2 separate regions of the Homo sapiens genome follow, and region 2 is linked to region 1. Evidence: fine-mapped QTL for protein levels in blood plasma. Region 1 holds a variant in brackets. A gene starts in the other region. All regions are shown on their reverse strands.

What was found. A credible set is the group of variants that fine-mapping cannot tell apart. PIP is the chance, under the fine-mapping model, that this variant and not a neighbour inherited with it causes the effect. Protein levels are from antibody-based Olink assays in UK Biobank. Linkage for the fine-mapping came from a reference panel and not from the study's own genotypes, which makes the PIPs less certain.
Region 2: PRSS27 starts here. The variant in region 1 is the best candidate, but not a certain one, in a credible set for the plasma level of the PRSS27 protein (UK Biobank, PIP 0.81).

The regions. Positions count from the first base shown.
Region 1 is chr11:126,372,004-126,376,003 of GRCh38, reverse strand. All of the region lies in intron 1 of ST3GAL4 (ST3 beta-galactoside alpha-2,3-sialyltransferase 4), which reads right to left. Among named protein-coding and RNA genes, the nearest start is that of ST3GAL4, 18 kb to the right of the region's middle. The variant G/A (reference allele first, on the strand shown) is at 2,250.
Region 2 is chr16:2,718,066-2,722,574 of GRCh38, reverse strand. It overlaps PRSS27 (serine protease 27), which reads left to right and starts at 2,351. Exons shown (of 6, transcript NM_031948.5): 1 at 2,351-2,460. The coding sequence starts at 2,415. RefSeq lists silencers at 1-137, 821-890, 1,021-1,780 and an enhancer at 1,514-2,081.

The sequences.
Region 1 (4,000 bases):
TGACAAACAATAATACGTGACTAACGATGTATTGCATGGCGAATTAACAACTGAAACAATGTACTGCACGTTCACTTTGTGCGAAACCAGGATCTCTTACTCATAGCCAGGGGCAAAAAAAAAAAAAAAAAAAAGGAAGAAAAGGAATCAGGATCCTGCAATCTCTGCCCCACTAACTTTGGGGGCCAGACAGTTCATTGTTGCGGGGTCTGTCCTGTGTATTGTGGGACGCTTAGCAGCATCTCTGGCCTCTACCCACTAGACACCAGAAGGAAATCCCACTCCCCAGGTGTGACAGAATGTTTCCAGACATTTCCAAATGCTGAGGACCACTGTGCTAGATGCTTCTAAGGGCTGTGCAAGTATTAAATATGATCTCGACCCTGTGAGTTCAACACGATAATTACCTCCATTGTAGAGCCAGGGAACTAAGGTGGGAAAGGGGTCAGTAACCGGCCCAGGTTGTACAGCTCGTGAGGAGCGGAGCTGGCACTGGAATTCTGGCTACTTCAGCCAGAACCCCCACATCCTACGGCTTCTAAAACCATCCCGTGCAGACTGGCTCCCTAGACTCCACGATCCCCGGGATGTCCACCCCTGCCCTACACAGCAATTAGGGGAAGGGGTCTCAAGCACATCCAAGTCCTTCGAAGGCTCCGCACAGTGACGAAGAGCCTGTCAAGCCCCTCCTCAGCCACGCTTCCGCACGAGACACAGTCTCTAGCCCCCACAGCCCTGGTGCTCTCTGGAAGCTCTGCAGTATGTGTTCAAGGCACACAGCTGTATTCGTGGGACCACTAACGCCTGCCAGATGGACACCAGACTTCCATGAATCCGACCATTTTTTGCAGCCACATCCCACCACTGGCATGGACTGACTCTCTCCGCTGTAGGCCAGGTCTCCCGGGCTGCGGACTCCTCTGGCTTCCCTGCCGAACTTCAGCGCGGGCCTGGGCTGTACCTGCTTCCACACATTCCACAGCCTGTCCAGGAGTCAGTCTCCACAGTGTCTGCCAACCCACAGCGATTCCTCTCGGCTTAGTGTCCGCTGCCCACGTTCTAGAGGGGACTCAAGCTGGACTGTGCATTTGACGTCATTAATACAACTGCCAGGTACAGTGAGCGCAGGCTACGGGCTGGGGAGTTCTCCCACAGGGTTAGAATCCACCCGATCAACACTCGGATACAGACGGTCCGCTAATTGCAAGTGCCAAGAACAGACCGGTCATCTGTAAAACTCCTCCTCAGCCCCAAAACCTCCATGGACTCTTCTCACTTACGGGGAGAGCCCGGGTCCTTGCTCTGACGCACAGAGACACACGTGCTCTACTGGCCAGCACCTCCTCCCTCCTTGCCCAACTCCTCTCCATGGAGGCTGCCCCACGCACCAGCCTCACCAGGTCTAGGGGGCTACCTAGGCATGCTCCCTCCTCTGAGGCTTTGTACTTTCGTTCACTCAGTCAAGAATGCTTTTCCGTAGACATGGGCTTGGCTATCTCTCTTCATCCAGCTTTCCTTTTCTCTATTTTTTTTTTTTTTTTTTTTTTTTGGAGACAAAGTCTTGCTTTGTCATTCAGGCTGGGGTACAATGGTGTGTGATCTTGGCTCACTGTAACCTCCACCTCCCGGGTTCAAGCAATTCTCGTGCCTCAGCCTCCCAAGTAGCTGGGATTTCAGGCATGCACCACCATACCCAGCTAATTTTTGTATTTTTAGTAGGAACGGGGTTTCCCCATGTTGTCCAGGCTGGTCTCGAACTCCTGACCTCAAGTGATCTGCCAAACTCGGCCTCCCAAAGTGCTGGGATTACAGGGGTGAGCCACTGTGCCTGGCCTCTTTGTCCAGCTCTTACTCAGCTTCTCTACTTCCCAGCAACAACTCCACACACCCAACACTGCAGGCCCCCTCCCCTGCTTGCAAAGATGTTTCTCTTGTTTTGCTTGCTGCTGTATTACCCATGTTGACAATAGTGCCCGGCACCCAGCAGGCTCTCAATACAAACGTGTTGAATTAATAAATGGATCTGTTCATCGGATAGCATCGCTCCAGTGCAGGTGGAACAGAGTGGAAGAGGCAGTGACAGTAGGTCAGATATCTTCTGGCCCCTGCGGCACAGTCCCTGGCTGGACGCTGCAGCCTCACCCCATCATTGAACACTGTGATCACAGCACGCCTGGGCACGGGGAGGCTTCCTGGCTCATTAGAGTTGGCAGAGAGCACAGTGAGTAACTGACCAGCTAACTGCCTCA[G/A]GGTCATGCATGGGAGGATGGAAACATCTCTCAAGCTGTCTGACCTTTGAGGGAAAGGAGCCAGACAGGCTTCCACCTACAGCAAAAGAAGTCTCTCTGTTCCCACCCTCAGGCTCCACAGGCTACCCACCACGACCCCCTCCCGTCCGCCCCTGCAGCCTGGCACTGCAGACTCCTGTATAGAAACACTGTATCACCCGTTTATCAGCTGCCAGTCACAAGACACCAACCACTTGAAAATCATACCTTGGTGTCTGCCTGGGAGGGGCAGAGGCTTTGAATTCCATTCTGAGGGTGAGAAAGCTGAAGCCAGTGTGAGGAGGTGGAATCAAGAGTGCAGCCTGGGCCCAAAGTAAAGGACAAATCCAGTGCCTGTGTGGACCTGCTCCAGGTCCTGGTCAGGGGCTCCCCGGCACCCCTCCATCCCAGGAGAAGCAATGCACCCACCCCAAGGATCTGAAGTTAAAGGCAAAATTGGGGAAGTTGCACTCCCCACCTCCCATCTTTCTAGATGCAGTACCTCCTAGAATCAGCACCCAAGTTCCTGATTAATCCATCTCCAAAGCAGCACCGCCTCTCCAGAGCAGCACCCCCTCTCCAGAACAGACCCTTTCAAAGTTCCTCCACTACTCAGCCAGGCACAGGGGTGCACAGTACTCAAGACATCAGGCTTTAAACAAGTCAGGTACAGTGCATGTAATCAACAAATACTTGAATATATAATATCAGTATTCCCACGAAACAATGAGAAAAAACATGGAAGCAAAGAGAAAACAAGAGACAAGATAGGATCCCACAACTGTGCTTCGGGGTATATACCCCAAAGAACTGAAACCAGAATATCAAAGCGATATTTGTACACCCATGTTCATAGCAGCATTATTCACAATAGCTAATCGGGAAGCAACCCAAGTATCCATCAATGGATGAATGAACAAAATGTGATCTATGCGTACAATGGAATATTATTCAGCCTGAAAAAGAAAGGAAATTCATGTAAAGGAAATATTATGGAGTTTTGCTGTATAAAATCCAAAGACGGCCGGGTGAATGGCTCACACCTTTAATCCCAGCACATTGGGAGGTCGAGGCACGCAGATCACCTGAGGTTGGGAGTTCGAGACCAGCCTGACCAACATGGAGACACCCTGTATCTACTGAAAATACAAAATTAGCCGGGTGTGGTGGTGCATGCGTGTAATCCCAGCTACTCGGGAAGCTGAGGCAGGAGAATCGCTTGAACCCAGGAGGCAGAGGTTGTGGTGAGCTGAGATCGCGCCATTACACTCCAGCCTGGGCAGCAAGAGCGAAACTCTGTCTCAGAAAAAAAAAAAAAGAAAAGAAAAGAAAAGAAAAAAAGAAATTCTGACATACACTGCAACATGGATCAACCTTGAAGACACTATGCAAAGTGAAATAAGCCAGTTACAAAAGGACAAATACTGTATCATTCCACTTATAGGAGGTACTCAAAAGCAGTCAAACTCATAGACACAGAAAGCAGAATGGCGGCTGCCAAGGACTGAGGGGAAAAGGAGATGAGCCATTGACTAGCAGGAGGATGTTTCAGTTTGACGAGACGAAAAGATTTCTGGAGCTGGATGGCGGGATGGTAGCACATTCTAAATGTACTTAATGCCACTGAACTATACACATAAAAAGGGTTAAGACGGTCAACAGGTCAACAGAACCTTGTGCTTGTGCATTTTATCATAACCACCACCAAAACAATCAAAGGAATAAAAAAGAAC
Region 2 (4,509 bases), not on the chromosome of region 1:
CTCCCGGGTTCAGGCCATTCTCCTGCCTCAGCCTCCAGAGTAGCTGGGTCTACAGGCGCCCACCACCGCGCCCAGCTAATTTTTTGTATTTTTAGTAGAGACAGGATTTTACCGTGTTAGCCAGGACGGTCTTGATCTCCTGACCTCGTGATCCGCCTGCCTCGGCCTCCCAAAGTGCTGGGATTACAGGCGTGAGCCACTGCACCTGGCCCTGATCTGCATCTTGACTTTTGTCACTTTCTTGATTTTAAGGCAGAGACACCCTTAGAGGAATGGGCTTAAAAGGAGGGTTGGGGAGCAGACACCAAGGAACACACAGAAAGGTGCCAAGAGGAAATAGTTACCTGCGAGGCTCTAAGACTGCCTCTGAGATCCCATCAGTGACCTGACCATAGGGTGCTGGAGAAATGTGGTCACCCAGACACTTTGAAACACTTTCCGTGGTTGATAATTATTATTCTCCTTTTTTTTTTTTTTTTTTTGAGACAGGGTCTCACTGTCTCCCAGGCTGGAGTGCAGTGTTGCAATCTCGTGTCATTGCCATCTCCGCCTCCCGAGTTCAAGTGATTCTCCTGCCTCAGCCTCCTGAGTAGCTAGGATCACAGGTGCCCGCCACCAAGCCCGGCTAATTTTGTATTTTAGTAGAGACGGGGTTTCACCATGTTGGCCATGCTGGTCTCGAACTCCTGACCTCAGGTGATCTGCCTGCCTTGGCCTCCCAAAGTGCTGGGATTCCCGGTGTGAGCCACTGCACCCAGCCCGTCGCGGTTTATAATTAGAGATTTCTCTGCTAAATGATGTTCTCTCTCTCACACTGAGGTGAGGTCTGTTTGGGTCACCTTTGTATTCCCCAAACCGGGGACAGTATTGGGCTCAAATCTGCTCAGAAATGACTGACTGACTGAATGAATAAATCAATACATGAATGAATACGTTTGGAGTCCCCTCTTCCCACTCCTCGCCCTCCCTCCTTCCCTCCAGACCCCCAGGGGCTGCCCAGCCCGCCTCCCACCCCCGACCCGGGAACTCCAGGGACTGGACGGGGAGGGAAGGGTGGGAGGAGGCGGTGGAGGCGGAGGCGGAGACGCGGGAGGGCGGGGCTAGGGAGGGCGATGCGGGGAGCCGGAGCCCGGACCATGAGGCTGGGAGCGCCCCTTCTGCACCCCTGGCCGCCCGCGCCGCGCCCCGCGCCCACCAGAGGGCAGCACCACGACGCGCGCGGACAAGGCTGAGGCGGGAACGGCCGCACCCCCAGCCCCGCCCGGAGCCGCCCGGCCCCGCCCCGCCCGCGAGTACCGACCCCCGGCGCCGGCGGGGAAACAGGTCCGGCGCCCCCGACCCCACGGCCCGGCCCCACTCTGTCTCTGACGTCAGCGCCGTGCCCCAAATAACTTCCTCCCCGAGCCTCTTCCGCCGCGGCGCCGCGCCCAGAGCCAGGCGGGGACACCGAAACGGTAACCCCGGCCCGGCCTTCCCGGAGCCGCTTCCGCCCCGCCTGGTGCCAGGAAGCCCCCGCCCCTTCCAAGGGATGGCAGCCGGGGCCCGGGTCGGCCGCCTGGGCCGCGCTGGCGCGCGCCTGAGGAACTTCTGGGGCCTGCTGTCCCGGGAGGAGGGTCGCTGCGGCCAACTCCGGACCCCGCCCCATGTCCCATCGCCTCCCCTGCCCTCGGCCCCGCAAACACCCCTGGCCTTGACTTTCCCACCAGCGCGGCCCAGCCCCACTGTGTTCCATCGGCGCTCAATAAAATACTGAATGAGGCCGGGCGCGGTGGCTCACCCCTGTAATCCCAGCGCTTTGGGAGGCCGAGGAGGGCGGATCACGAGGTCAGGAGATCGAGACTAGCCTGGCCAACACGGTTAAACCCCGTCTCTACTAAAAATACAAAAAATTAGCCGGGCGTGGTGGCACCTGCCTGTAATCCCAGCTACTCAGGAGGCTGAGGCAGGAGAATGGCTTGAACCTGGGAGACGGAGCTTGCAGTGAGCCGAGATTGCGCTCCAGCCTGGGCGACAGAGCGAGACTCTGTCTCAAAAAATTAAAAAAAATAATAATAATAATAATGAATGAAGCTGGACGGACTTCGCGTGCACCGCGGTCAGCTCGGGGTCTGCTGGGGGGTCTGGGTCAGCTCAGGGTCCAGGAACCGAGGCCAACGGCACCCCGTGCTGCGCTGGGGTGAGGGGTCTGCCCTGGGGTCTCGGGGTTCAGGGCTAGGTCACGGAGGAGTCGGCTCTGGGCGCTTCCTTCCTGAGGAGAGGAGCTGGGCAGGCCGGGCCGACGGGTTGGGCCGCATAGCCGGGCCTGTGCTCATCTCCAGCATAAAACTCCACTTCATGGAGCCTGCACCTCGCTCGTGCTCCAACGCTTCTGCCACCGCCGACCACGGCCCTGCGCCCCAGCCAGGCCTGAGGACATGAGGCGGCCGGCGGCGGTGCCGCTCCTGCTGCTGCTGTGTTTTGGTGAGTCGTGAAGGTGCAGGGTCCTGGTGGTGCAGTCCCCCACCAGGCTCCGCTGCACTGCCTGGGGCTCCGGCTCAGCCCCCTACTCCCTGGGACAGGCTGGGGCTGTGGGACAGGCCATCATCCCTCCTGCCCCTGAGCAGGTGGGAAGGCTCCAGATGTGCCAAGTGGGGAGTCCAAAGTGGGGAGGCAGGGTGGGAGGTGTGCGCACAGGCCCCAGAGGACCCCACCGGCATAACTGGGCAGCACCTCCTCCCATGCCTCTCCGCGGGCACTGGTGTGCCAGCTCTGGCCAGGCTCCCTGCTTCCTGCCACCTCGGCCTCTCCCCCCATTCTCTAGGTGAGGACAGGGGCCTCCTACGTGCAGGATGTGAACTCAGGCTCCAAGTGCCTGGACCATCATACTCGGGGTGGGAGGGTGGCCGAGCCGAGGGCTGCTGCCTGTGCCCGGAAGCCCCAGCAGGCTGGCTGCAGGCTCAGTAGAGAGCTGGGGGCAGGGGGTGTAGGTGGCAGAGGGCCCTGTCTCCTGCTGACAGAGGAACCGGTGATGCGCCACCGTGCCCTCTCCCAGTCCTGGGTCAGGGACAGCAGGTGCCAGCCAGGGGGCCCCACCTGCCAGGCCCCTCCCTGCGGGCCGGGACACTCTCTGTCAGGGAAAACCTCTCACATTCCTGGGCTAGCCTAGCCAGTCTGGCAGCCACCACACTTCCCTGTCCTCAAGTCACCTCCCAGGGCTGGGTCAGGTCATCCCAGGCTGCAGCTTAGCCAGTACTCCAGGCTTCCTTGTTCTCCTGGGTGGGAGGGCACCAGTGGCCCCTCAGTGGCCCGGCCTCCCCCACCCCATGCCCCCAGTCTCCCAGCACAAGGATGGTGCCCTCTGAGCAAGCCATGTGCACAGGAGGTGGAAGGCTGTGACTGCCCCTGAGCGGGGTGAGGAACCAAGGTCATTGCCAAAACTCTTTGGCAATGAGTTTTGCAGTCGGTTCACTAACAGCTGTGACCAGAGGCTGGACTCCTGGACACGTCCTCACTCCCAGCCCGAGGGTGGCACTCCCACCAGGTCTCTGGCTGGTGGTACCCACTAAGCTTCACCATCCCCACCAGCTACCAGCGAATCACAGGCCCAGGCCCCAAACAATGCTCCTGACACCCCCGGCACCCCTGGCTGTTGCTTCCAGCCCCCACAGGGCGCCCACCCTGAAGGGCTCAGCTGTCCACATCCCCCATTTCCCATCAGCCCCCACAGCCACACTTGTGTCCATCCACACATTCCCTGAGATCAGGCCCCCCAGATGCAGCCCTTGCCTTCTCGGAGCTCCTGGGCTAAGATAAGACTTGATTCTGGCTCCAGGGTGATGTAGACAGAGCTCCCATCAGGACAGAGAGCTCAAGAGAGAGTATAGGGCTTCCAAGGTAGACAATGCAAGCAAGCAAGGAAGGCTTCCTGGAGGAGGCAGCATTCAGTTGGGCCTTGATCTCTAGATCACGATTAGGACTTGGCTGGGAGCGGTGGCTCACGCCTGTAATGCCAGCACTTTGGGAGGCCGAGGTGGGCGGATCACGGGGCCAGGAGATCGAGACTATCCTGGCAAACATGGTGAAACCCCTCTCTACTAAAAATACAAAAAAATTAGCCGGGCTTGGTGGCGGGCCCCTGTAGTCCCAGCTACTCGGGAGGCTGAGGCAGGAGAATGGCGTGAACCCAGGAGGCGGAGCTTGCAGTGAGCTGAGATCGCGCCACTGCACTCCAGGCTGGGCAACAGAGTGAGACTCCATCTTAAAAAAAAAAAAAAAAAAAAGACTAGGACTTATGGAGACTGGGGGAAGGGCATCCAGATTGTGGGGTGAGGGGAGCAAGCACTCAGAGACCAGAAGACTCTGCCTAAATGAGAAGTACAGGGCTACTTTAGGAAGGAAGGATCTGCATGGGGAGGAGGCATCGCTGAAGGGGCAGTGCTCAGGCAGGGAGCATGGAGACACAGCTCCTGCAGACTCCCAGAGAGCGAGAAGGCCTGACAGTGCGCGCCCTTCTGCAAGCAGGATCCTCAG